3 separate regions of the Homo sapiens genome follow, and regions 1 and 2 are each linked to region 3. Evidence: fine-mapped expression QTL. A gene starts in region 3. Each other region holds a variant in brackets. All regions are shown on one strand. Distances are between the middles of the regions.

Region 1 (4,222 bases), 65 kb after region 3:
TCTCTTGGTCAACATATTTTAATAATCCAAGATGGAAGAAAATATGCCCTCTTCCAGCTTAATCACCCTCTTTGTTAAAGAAAGTCAGGTCAGGGAGAAAACAGGCAAGAACTTGAGCGTCAGAATTGCACGTCCGCGTGTTTGTGCGGGGCTGGAACTTGGCAGCTCCCGCTGAAATTAAAGCGCGAGTCTTGCGCCCCCTCATGGCCCCAGGCGGCACCCCAGCATCTCCCGCTCTCTGGACAAGCCCCTCCCCCGCTGATTGTATTTCACATTGGGAGCCCAGACAGGGTGGTCTCGCCGGGTGGCTGTAGCTGTGGATGACGAGTTGGTTCTAGGACTGAGGCCTGAGGGCAGCTCAGCCTGGGGCCCCTTGAGCACGCAGTCACAGAGCCCAGGATTCCTCTTAAAGAGCACAGACGCAGGCCAGGCACAGTGGCTCATGCTTGTAATCCCAGCACGTTGGGAGGCCGAGGCAGGAGAATCCCTTGAACCCAGGAGTTCGAGACCAGCCTAGGAAACATAGTGAGACCCCTTCTGTATTTGACAAACAAAGAGTACAGACCCAGGAGGAAGCGCTCATTATCCACCCAGTCTCGGCCTCCAGCCACGTTGGGTATTGTCAGGCCATTTTACAGACACAGCAGCTGAGGTCAGGCAAGTTTAAATAAAAGGCTTAAGGTCACACAGTCTTAAACAACAGAGAGGCCCATCTGGTCCCAAGTTCCCCTGCAGACTCAGCCCCCTCCTGAAGCCTGGTCCATGCTGCCCCGCCCTGCTGAGTGCTGACCTGGTTTTCTTGGCCACATAGGGCTGTGGGCCACCTGGAGCAAGCTGACATCTCCTGTGACAATTTCTCCCCAGGTAAACACCACTCTGCCAGCAAGGACGCTGCTGCTCGGCTGGGGCCCCTATGCCATCCTGTATCTATACGCAGTCATCGCAGACGTGACTTCCATCTCCCCCAAACTGCAGATGGTACAGATACTTCTAGTACCTAAAACTAGACCCCTCTCCATCTTTGTTCTCTGTCTCATCTCATCTCACTTTCTGGATTTATGACCTCTGTGTCAGTCTCTTCCTTTCTGTGTTTCTTCCTTTGGATACTCACAAGGCATAGAGCATTAGTTTGCCCCCCTAATCCCCCACCTCGTCTCTGAGTCATACCAGGCTGCTGCTTGACATTGCCCAAACCTCATGTGAGATGACAGGGACAGCCAGCCAGATGGTGTAGATAAAGACTCTGTGACCAGGGGTTGAGATTAGTCCCCAGGCTGGGAGCAGGTGGGTCTGGACAAGAGTATGGCTCCATGGACTCCGTGAGCCATGCATCTCCACCAACTAGTCAGGGAAGCCTCCAAGGCTGCAGAACTAAATGATTGGCAGTTGTAGGTGGAGGGTGACCGGGGTCACCAGGTGAGACCAGAGAGAGGATCAGTGGCTTTGAAGCTTCTTTTCTGGACTTTTCTGCCACAACAGGTGCCCGCCCTCATTGCCAAAATGGTGCCCACGATCAATGCCATCAACTATGCCCTGGGCAATGAGATGGTCTGCAGGGGAATCTGGCAGTGCCTCTCACCGCAGAAGAGGGAGAAGGACCGAACCAAGTGAGCCTGCCACCCTGGAGTGAGCCCCAGGCCAGGAGGCTGTTCCAGGAGTCCTGCCCAGCAGCCTCAGTGGCCAAGCCCAGACACTCACCCACCTTCCCCAGTGGCCCCGTGGATCCTGGTCCTAGGCTGGACACAGGATTCAGAAAGACACCAGGCTGCACAGAAAGAGCCAGATGGACCTGAGTGTCGGTCACAGCCCCCTACACTCAAGGCTGAGAGGCCTCAGGAAAGTCATTCCTTTTTAAAAATAATAATAAATGTAAGGGGGTACAGTGCAGTTTTGTTACATGGATAGATTGCCTAGTGGTGAAGTCTGGGCTTTTAGTGTAACCATCACCCTAATAATATACGTTGTACCCATTAAGTTATTTCTCATCCCTCACCCCCTCCCACCTTGTCACCCTTCTGAGTCTCCAATGTCTATTATTCCACACTCCATGTCCACGTGTACACATTATTTAGCTCCCACTTACAAGTGAGAACATGTGGTATTTGACTTTCTGTTTTTGAGTTATTTCACTTAAAATAATGACCTCCAGTTTCATCCATGTTGCTGCAAAAGACATGATCTCGTTCTTTTTTATGGCAGTGTAGTATTCCATTCCATATACATATATAAACGTTATATATATGTAACGTTTTCTTTATCCAATCATCTGTTGATGGATAGATTCCATATCTTTGCTACTGTAAA[C/CAG]AGCTGTGATAAGCATACAAGTGCAGGTTTCTTTTTGATATACTGATTTCTTTTCCTTTGGGTAGATACCAGTAGTAGGACTGCTGGATCAAATGGTAGCTCTATTTTTAAGACAGTATGGAGAAATCACCATACTGTTTTCCATAGGGGTTGTACTAATTTACAGTCCCACCAACAGTGTATAGGTGTTCCCTTTTCTCTGCATCCTTACCAATATCTGTAATTTTTTGACTTTTTAATAATAGCCATTCTCACTTGTGTGAGATAAGGTCTCATTGTGGTTTTAATTTCCATTTCTCTGATGACTTTTGATGTTAAGCATTTTTTCATATGCTTCTTAGCCACGTGTATGTATTCTTTTTGAAAAAATGTTTATTCATGTCTTTTGCCCACTTTTTAATGGCATTATTTGGATTTTTTTTGTTGAGTTATTTGAGTTTCTTATATATTCTGGATAATAGTCTGGATAATATATTCTGGATAATATATAATAGTCTTATATATTCTGGATATATTCTGGATACATGGTTTGCAAATATTTTCTCCGGTTCTGCACGTTGTTCATTCTGTTGATGGTTTATTTTGCTGTGCAGAAACTTTTTTAGTTTAATTAAGTCCCATTTGTCTATTTTTGGTTTTGTTGCTTGTGCTTTTGAGGTTTCTGTCATGAATTCTTTGCCTAGACCAATGCCCAGAAGAGTTTTTCCTAGATTTTCTTCCAAGATTTTTATAGTGTCCATTCTTACACTTAAGTCTTTAATCCATCTTGAGTTGATTTTTTTTTTTTTAAGACGGAGTCCTGCTCTGTCACCCAGGCTGAAGTACAGTAGCACCATCATAGCTCACTGCAACCTTTGCCTCCCAGGTTCAAGCAGTTCTCATGCCTCAGCCTCCTAAGTAGCTGGGATTACAGGCATGCGCTACTATGTCTGGCTAATTTTTTGGGGTTTAGTAGAGACAGGGTTTCACCATGTTGAACAGGCTGTCCTCAAATTCCTGACCTCAGGTGATCCACCCACCTTGGCCCCCAAAGTGCTGGGATTACAGGCATGAGCCACCGTGTCTATCCTTGAGTTGATTTTTATATATGGTAAGAGATATGGGTCCAGTTTCATTCTTCTGCATATGGCAATTTAATTTTCCCAGCACCATTTATTGAAAAGGTGTCCTAACATCACTCCTTCTAAATCCTCTAACCCTTAACATAAGGATGTTAACATGGACATCACAGGGTTGTTGTGAGGCTTGAAGATAACATGTACTCACTAAGCACATAGAAAATACTCATTAAAACAGAGCTGTTCGTTAAGTCTTGGCCATGCCTTGCAGGGACTCAGTCTTACATAGAAAGGGGTAAAAGCCCCAGGGTTTGCTTATGGGACCTCAAGCCAGGCTGCCAGCATTCAAACACCATGTATTAAATCGTGATCTGCTGCCCGTCACTTCCTCTGCCTGTGCATCGTTTCCCAAGTTGGGAGGTGAGATGATGGAAGTGGCAACTTGACTACACAGAAAGGACCAGAACATTCCCTGTCATGGTAAGTGCTCATGGAGTATCAGCCACCAGTACATGCCAGTCAAAGACAGCCTCTGGTAATACGGGGCTAGGCCTGCACATTACTTTAAAATGTTTTGAGGTTTGTTGCCAACATTTAAAAATCAGGACAGTTTATTTAAATCCAGATGTCAGAAGATGAGGCTTTACCCGGCTGCCTTCCTACATTGTTACAGTTTGTAGAGCTCAGGGCAGCTCGGCCCTTTGCCCAGGACACATGCTCTTGTGTCAACCTCAGTGCCTGTGTCCCCTGTTGATCCTGTGGGCCTCTGGGTTTGTGACAAGAGCCATCCCGAGTCCCCAAGAGAAAGAGACGAGGCCGAACACATCAGCGTCCTCATCTGTGCTCAGAGGAGAGGCAGG
Region 2 (4,222 bases), 40 kb before region 3:
TGTGGTCATGTTTGACTTGTACAGAATGTTAATCATACAGAGAATCCTTGATGGAATTATATATGTGTGTTTTACTTTTGAATGTTACAAAAGGAAATAACTTTAAAACTATTCTCAAGAGAAAATATTCAAAGCATGAAATATGTTGCTTTTTCCAGAATACAAACAGTATACTCATGATTGCTAAGTGTTTTTTTATTTTTGCATATTTATTGAACTGTCTAATTGAATACAGCTTGCTCTTGTCACCTCTTCAAGCTTTCAAGCCTTTATAGAAAAGCTTCTTTGTGGCTTACACTGGAAATTATGAAAGCAGTTTTTCTCCTAAGACTTTTGGTTTCTCGCATTGCCTCTCAGACTAAGCACTAAAAAGCAAAGCAAAACAGAACTAGTTCTGTCTTAATGAAATATATCAACCCAAAAGTGTAATGAGGAAAATGCTTCATTAGTTTCCCCTAGCAGACTTTTACTTCTCTTACACTGCTACACCATTACTTTCTTGAGACATTTGTAAGTTCTTTGATACAGAAGAGTTATATTTAGAAGTCTTTAATGAAGGGAAAGAAGTCTGTATGATGACTGAGGTGATTGCTCTTTTTGACAAATGTTTATTACAGTAATGCAGAAATACTGTTAATCATCTCAAAGTACATAGGAGGCTTATTTCTGAAACAAAGGTTTCAGCCAGATGTTGATTAGTCTAATTTTTCCAAGTGAATCATATGCATGCCATTTGAATAGGGATTTCTTCAAGAAAGCAACTTAGTTTCTTGCCAGTATAGTATAGTGCAGTGTGATAAGTACATGATACTTGTAGCTAGACTACCTCTATTTGAATCTCAACTCTTATTTCTTATGTGACCTTGGGCAAATTACTTAACCTCTGTGTGCCCAGTTTCCTCTCCTGTAAAATGAATATATTGGAACCTGTCTTATAGGTTTATGGTTAAACGTGCAGGCACTTAGTAAGCATTACATAAGTCTTAGCTATTGATGCTTTTTTTTATTAGTAAAAATGTAAATGCCAATTTTCTATTTTTCTTCTCCCCATCCTGATACCCATATCAGTGTGATCTTAAAGTGCCTGTTTTCCTTAGTCACCTTTTAGAACCCAAAGTTTATGTCTTTTTTAAATTAATATCACACACAAAATGATATCATTTCAGTGATGGTATCAGGCAGTTTATCTAGAAAACCAAGGATTTTTTTACTGTTTTACTTTTTTTTTAAATAGAGGGGTTCAGTTTGGTCTTAAATTGGATTCAAACAATCCACTCACCTTGGCCTTCCTAAGTGTCGGCATTACTAGCTTGAGCCACTGCCCCCATCCTGGGTTGTTTTGTTGTTGTTGTTGTCGTTGTTGTTAATTTAATGACATTATGTTATTGGACTTCTTCTGACTTTGCTAAGACAATGAAGGCTATGCAAAATAATATATAAAATGTGGCCGGGTGCGGTGGCTCACGCCTGTAATCCCAGCACTTTGGGAGGCCGAGGCAGGCAGATCATGAGGTCAAGAGATGGAGACCATCCTGGCCAACATGGTGAAACCCTGTCTCTACTAAAAATACAAAAATTAGCTGGGCATGGTGGTGTGCATCTGTAGTCCCAGGTACTTGAGAGGCTGAGGCGGGAGAATCGCTTGAGACAAGGAGGCGGAGGTTGCTGTGAGCCAAGATCGCGCCACTGCACTCCAGCCTGGCAACAGAGCAAGACTCCGTCTCAAAAAGATAAATAAATAAATAACATATAAAAGGTAAGCTGATATATAAAATGTGATCGTTTGTAAAACATACCAGTTGTAAATGGTAATAGAAAAAAATCACTAGTTTCTTGGCTCTTAACATACCACAGAGTTTTTGTTTTTTTTTTTCCTCATTCACAGCGAAGAGTAATGACCTGCAAAGTGATAGGCTTTAGGTAAAAAAGTAAATGTCCATTTTTCATTTTCTGACATCGTCTGAAATACTAGAGGATAAATGAAACATGTTTTAAAATAATCCCGAGAAAAAAGGCCCTTTGAGTTGTTGCTTAAAATGGCATCTACTGAACAGTCAGAAAACATGAATTTTTTATGTAACAGGTGCCATGCTAGCTGGGCCCAGGGGAGACAATGATGAATAAAAGTAATTGCCTTCTAAAGCATATCAAATCCGTGTAAACACGGCCATAGGCCATTGGATGAGTGTCACAGAAAGGTAAGCAAAATGGAAATGCAGACTGAATAATAAGTTTCTAAGATGGCCCAGGAGGAAATTTTCAAGAGTAAGCATAGTAGGTAAAGCACACAGAAAAAGGTAGTATGGGCATTTCATACAATGGATGCTTGATGGGGGAGGGCTGCAGGGAGAGATGGACAAAGTGGAAAAAGATGGTAAGAAATGGAAATTCTCTTGAAGCTGGATTTCCCACTTGCTGCGGGTGTGTGCTTTGC[T/C]TAACATGTTAAAACCTGCAGGCGTGGTGGCTCATGCCTGTAATCCCAACACTTCGGGAGGCTGAGGCAGGAGGATTGCTTGAGCCCAGGAGTTCAAGACCACTCTGCACAACAAAAAAACCCATCTCTACCAAAAATTTAAAAATCAGCAGGGTGCAGTGGCGCATGCCTGTAGTCCCAGCTACTCAGGAGGATTGCTTAAGTCTAGCATTTCGAAGCTGCGATTGTGCCACTGCACTCCTGCTGGGCAAAAAAAAAAAAAAAAAACTAGGAAGACAGGCAGGCATGTTTACCTTGAAATTGTATCTGGGTAACGTGTCCAGGTTAAAGGTACTAAAACTGAGTGATACCCAAGACATATAATTCCAGTGGGGTAGGGTGGCCCAGCTACACTAGTAATAGCTGATGTTTGAATTGAACTCTTTGCCCAAAGTTTGATCTTTGCACAAGGTCATATGGCTGGGAAGAATAATGAGACAAACTCCCTAACCAATTATGCCGGGAGGATAGATGATAGATCTAAAATCGTGTAGGACACAGCCATATAAAAGAAAGCAAGCTTGTCCTTATAGAGTTAGCTGGAGGCCATCATCCTGTTACAAACAACAAATTAACCCAGGAACAAAAAAACAAATGCCCCATGTTCTCACAAATGGGAACTAAACATTGGCTACTCATGGACATAAAGATGGTAATAATAGATACCTGGGATTCCTAGAGGAAGGAGTGGGGCAAGGGTTGAAAACCTATTGGACACTGTGCTCGGTATCTGGGTGATGGGATCATTGGTACTCCAAACCTCAGCATCACGCAGTATACACAAGTAACAACCTGCACATGTATTCCATGAATCCAAAGTAAAAGTTGAAGAAGTAGAATTTTGCTTGAGAATCACAAAAGCACTATACAAATTAAATAGGTTGAGATTCTATTAAAGTGTAAGTCACTTTTAAAATCTTGGGAATCAGTATTCTGAGTAAATTAAAGGAAATAGAACAGGAACATTTTAGTTTTCTGTGAAAAAAAAATTGACCTCAGTGAAGGATACTGGAAATCATCGTGCCTTCCTCACATCTATTTCTTACGGTACAAAATAGTCCTTTTTTGTATTGCCCAGTTCACTCCGAGCTACAAATCAAAATTGACCATTTTTTAAGGTCAATTTCATCAATAAGATGAAATCCTAAATGCATTCCATTTTTAACTAGCACAAAATGGAAATGACTTTTCAGGAATAGATTAGAAAGCTATGACCTTGAGGACTTTCCACCTTTAAAGTAAGATTCTTTTGTGAAGCAATTCAGGAAGATGGACGGTGAACATTCAATTCATTAACATCTGAGAACCATGAAGAGAGTATTTTTTGCCACAAGCAAAAATGAACCTAAATAAAAGACTGGTGGGGGAGGAGAATCATAACGACCATTATGGCCCGCATCTTATGGGCTGCTGCGCAGTTAGCATGAGGGGAGGCCTTGCACAAGCTCTTCCCCTCAGCCTCAGCATCCTGTTCTGCCTCATTTGTGGCTTGCGTCAGACTGAGTCACCCAGCGCAATGTCACTCTTCCTCAGGGGACTTCTCTCAACCTTCCACCTTCTACAGAGAGCTTGATGGATGGTGAGGTTGTTGCAACCTCACTGGATACAGATAGTAGAAGTGCGAGGATCCCCGTGGCTACACTCGAGATAAAATTAATGTGTTCTGGCAGGACTGAATGGACGTTTTTCCTCACAACCGTATACGCAAGTTTAGTAGTTTTTAAACATTCAATTTATGCTTTCCACTGG
Region 3 (4,222 bases):
CAAGATGGGTGGATCACCTGAGGTCAGGAGTTCAAGACTAGCCTGGCCAACATGGTGAAACCCCGTCTCTACCAAAAAAAAAAAAAAGAAAAAAAATTTGCTGGGCATGGTGGCGTGCACCTGTAATGCCAATATTTGAAAGGCTGAGGCAGGAGAATCACTTGAACCTAGGAGACAGAGGTTGCAGTGAGCTGAGATCCGCCATTGCACTCCAGCCTGGGTGACCGAGTGAGACTCCAGCTCAAAAAAAAAAAGAGTTTGAACCTTCTTTGGAGCCAACCCAAACTGTATGTGAATCCAAGCTCTGCACCTCAGAGAGAATAAGTCACTTGCTTGGTCGTACACAGCCAATGAGGAAATCTCCCTCCTCTGCAAAGCAGAGAAAATCACATTGGGAGAGCAGTGCAGGTCAAATAAGATAATATGGGCAAATATACATAAGCACACATACAGCACATGGCATGTAGGCTACTCCTTCCCCTTCCCTCTCCAGTGCATGGCTGTTGACTGAGGGAACTGAGGAGAGAGAAATCAACGGCCCTAGATTGGTGAGGAGCAGGGCTAACAGGACCCAGGGAGAGCTGGCTTTTCTCGGCCCACCAAGACATCTACTCCAGGAAACCTTGGCTCTGCCTCTGGCTCCTGGGAAATCCACGGCAAGACTCAGTCTCCACATCCCTATATGGGACTTGCAGAATACTTGCCTTAGCTTTGTCCCAGCACTTTGGGAGGCAGATTCAGAACATCTGTGCAATTTAAAGTGTGTCTTTTCAGCAAAAGAGCCAAGCCTAAGGAGACTCAACAAGGGTTTCGGCCAATTAGGCCTGAAAACTGCTGCACATTCTAAAACCATTGATTCATCTTCCTTCTTCTCTGCAAATCCCTGACCCTTGCTCACAGTAGATCATGTAGGGCTAGACCAAGGGATGGGGGGTGCTCTGTTCCCTCAAAGGCCCCTGGCAGGGGGAGGGGGGGAATGCTGAGTCCTCAGCTGTGGAGACCTCTCCCAGGAGCACACAGAGGAGGGATCTCCTCTATCTGAGAACACATCCACCCAAGGGCATCCTGGGAAGTGGCCTGGCTTGGGCTTGAAGTGACCTGTACCCCCATAAATGGCCCAACCAGGAAAAGGAAAACAGGCTGCATTTCCAAGCACCCTCCAGTGTCAGAGCAGGAGAACGAGGAAGCCCAAGGAGCTTTACCAGCAGCCAAAAAGGTTCCTGGGCTTACCTGTGTCTTCAAGTTATCAGCATCCAGGACCCCAATAGCAGTGCCTTGCTTTGTGTAAATACCCTCTAGGAATGAGATCTCGTGCCTCTCGGGCAGTTCAGATCTATCTTGGCCAGCTCTGTGCAAGTCTGTCCTAAGATGGGGCTTAACTCTGCCTTCAGGCCCTTCACTCTTCCTTGGAAGGTTTGAAGAGTGGGTCAGCTGCCCCTTCATGGTCCCAGACTGGGCACTGACTGGGAATGGGGAGCAGAACTGCCTCTCACCCTGGTGGACACCTGAGGGTCCTCCCTGCTGCCCACCACACAGATCAGACCCTTTGGGAGAGGTGGTCCAGCCTGGGGAACAGGGCAGGAATGGGTTGAGATCACAGAGAGGGGGTCCTGATAACCCCTTACCATCTGCTGCCCATCCATCACCCTTTCTCTTTGCCTTTGGTCTCACGCGGCTTATAGAACCTGCTTAGACTGCTAAGGCAAGGCCCTCTCGGCCGCTCCACTAACTTTTCTTCTGGAATGCTTAGCTCAGAGAAGACAGCTAAGCCCCTGAAAGTCACAGAGGAAGTTGATGAGAAAAGAAAACTGCGAAGCCCAAGCCCCACCAGGACTTAAGTACCCTGGGAAAGCCTCAGGACAACTTGGGGGAAAGACACTCCTGTCCCCCATGGTGTCCTCCTGTCCAGGACTGGGGGCCGCCGGCAAAGGGGGCGTGGCGGGCGGGGAGTCCTCTTGTCACGCCCTCCTGCCCCCGCCCGCGGCTGGGAGCCTGTCGCTCCGCTCTGCGCCGCTAATTGGTCTCGTCAGGCGGCCGGCAGGAGCAGATCCGAGCCGTGTCATCCTCTTAGCGCCCTCACGCCACCCGCCGCTCCCGCCCCGTGCCCCCTCCCGCCGCGGCTGCAGTCGCCGCTACCCCCATTGTGGTCTCTGCCCTCCCCGCGGGCCCAGGGCATGCTCCGTGCCCCTGCGCCCGGTCTCGGCGGCGGCAGGCGACACTCCGCGCCGGCGGAGACATGAGGCGCTGCCGGTGGGCCGCCCTGGCCCTGGGGCTGCTGCGCCTCTGCTTGGGTGAGTGGCCGCTGGGCCGCGCTGGCCGCGTGGATGGCGAGGGAGATGGGCGCTGGCGTCACCCAGGTGGCCAGAGGGACATGGTCCTGGACCACTTCCAGAGTGGGACTCGGGCTGGTGGACGGGAGCGGAGAAGTCCTTCCATCTTCCTGGCCCATTCGGTAGTGGGGAGTGGGGTAGCGGAGTAGTGGGGAGCTCCGGGGCGCTTCTCCAGAGCTGGCATCCTAGGGCCCCAGGGTTTGGCGCCCGGACCCCCGCTGCTCTCCGCTTGCTGGGAACCAGAGCTGTAGGCTTGGTGGCAGCTCCGATGCTGCGTGGGGCAGGAGATAGTGCCCTGACTCGCGGCTTGACCTTGGCTGGGCTGGGGCACTGCCCCTCTCCGAGCGCGGGTGCAATCTGCCCATTGATGAAGGAGGGGTTGGATTGCTACCTGGGTTCTAAGCGCCCACATGCTACGTGTCCCTGACAAGCCCGAGCCCACCGGGGGCGGAGTGGGGGTCAGGGGCATCCTCTGGGCGGCGCCCCAGTGGGGTCCCTCGGTGCACTTGGGTTGGGGAGGCGGAGCGCCCTCCTGCCCAGTAGCTGGGCCTGACGCGGGACCGCGCTGGTGCGAAGCTCCCTCCTGGTGTCTGGGTGTCCTTTGCCTGGGTGTCCGTCTGTTCTGTGTTCTTTTTCCAGCTCAGGCCAACTTCGCCCCGCACTTCTTCGACAACGGGGTCGGCAGCACCAACGGAAACATGGCTCTGTTCAGCCTCCCAGAGGACACCCCTGTAGGTGAGTAGCCCTGGCACCTGCTCCCGATAGGTCTCCCTGAGGGGTGCAGGCAGACTTAGAACACAAAGTGCCCCAGGCACCACCCAAGTTGCTGCGCGCGCCCGGGGGCTCCTTGTTTGCTCTCCGAATTCCCCTGGGCAATGGCAGGAAAGAAGGTCATTGCTGCCATGGCGACTTAAGTCTGGCCAGTCCTGGAGACCAGGGCTCCCCCCCACAGACAGGGTCGCCCCGCGAGGCAGGCAGCTACAGCTGCCCCTTATGGCTGTGTGACCTTGAACAAATGTATTTACCTCCCTGAGCCCCAGGTCTCTAGGCTTTAAAACGGCCTAAGAACATCCAACTTGCTGAGATATGCAGAGAGAGGGGAGGAGAAAGGGGAGATTTCACACTCCTTCTCCCTCACTTTGTGGGTAGTGGGAACCCGGGGAAAAGGGAGAGCAGAGCAAAGTAGGCACCTGGCTCAGAAATCCCTGCAGAACCAGGTCCAGGCATCGGGGACAGTGGTGCACTGTGGGTCACCCCTCCTGCCTTAATGGCTGCTCCCATTTCCCCTTCCCTGTACCCAGGAGCCCCTCAATCTTGGATCCTGAGAGAGGAGTTATTACCAGGCTGAGCAGAACATAGGCACTACAGTTAGGCACGGCAGACCTGCACCTGCTCTGTAACCCGTGTTATAGATTACAATCTGGAAAGTGGCTGATCATCACAACCACCCGCTGTGAAGAATAAACATACAAAGAGGGAAGCAGCCAGCAGGGGTGAGGCCAGCAATGAGCACCAAGTTCAGGGCAGTACCTTTGGCACTGAGTTGAATAGTCACTTTATAAACAGCTGAATCGTTGGTCCTGAGCATCTGCCACTTTTAGGAAAAGTTGGGTCTCAGATTCTATGTCTCTCCACTGTGTTTCCTTCCAGGCTCTCACGTATACACCCTGAATGGGACAGACCCTGAGGGAGACCCCATCTCCTACCACATCAGCTTTGACCCCAGCACTAGAAGCGTCTTTTCTGTTGACCCCACTTTTGGAAACATCACCCTGGTTGAAGAGCTGGACAGAGAGGTATGGGGAGGTGTGGGGAGTGCTGCGGGGCCACTGCCTGTAGACAGACCTCGGTGGGCTGAAGTTCCCCTGGAGCACATTGGTTAGAACCTCTCC

What was found. PIP is the estimated chance that this variant, and not a neighbour inherited with it, causes the effect. A credible set is the group of variants that fine-mapping cannot tell apart.
Region 1: its variant is the best candidate, but not a certain one, in a credible set for the expression of CDHR1 in spinal cord (GTEx, PIP 0.76).
Region 2: its variant is the best candidate, but not a certain one, in a credible set for the expression of CDHR1 in whole blood (TOPMed, PIP 0.84).

What each region holds. Positions count from the first base shown.
Region 1 is chr10:84,257,029-84,261,250 of GRCh38, forward strand. RGR (retinal G protein coupled receptor) reads left to right here. Exons shown (of 7, transcript NM_001012720.2): 6 at 865-978; 7 at 1,480-2,932. The coding sequence ends at 1,611. Among named protein-coding and RNA genes, the nearest start is that of RGR, 14 kb to the left of the region's middle. The variant C/CAG (reference allele first, on the strand shown) is at 2,305.
Region 2 is chr10:84,152,996-84,157,217 of GRCh38, forward strand. GHITM (growth hormone inducible transmembrane protein) reads left to right here. Exons shown (of 9, transcript NM_014394.3): 9 at 1-573. Among named protein-coding and RNA genes, the nearest start is that of GHITM, 16 kb to the left of the region's middle. RefSeq lists an enhancer at 2,317-2,830. The variant T/C (reference allele first, on the strand shown) is at 2,435.
Region 3 is chr10:84,192,525-84,196,746 of GRCh38, forward strand. It overlaps CDHR1 (cadherin related family member 1), which reads left to right and starts at 2,013. Exons shown (of 17, transcript NM_033100.4): 1 at 2,013-2,291; 2 at 2,970-3,065; 3 at 3,981-4,126. The coding sequence starts at 2,237. RefSeq lists silencers at 1,909-2,038, 2,109-2,228.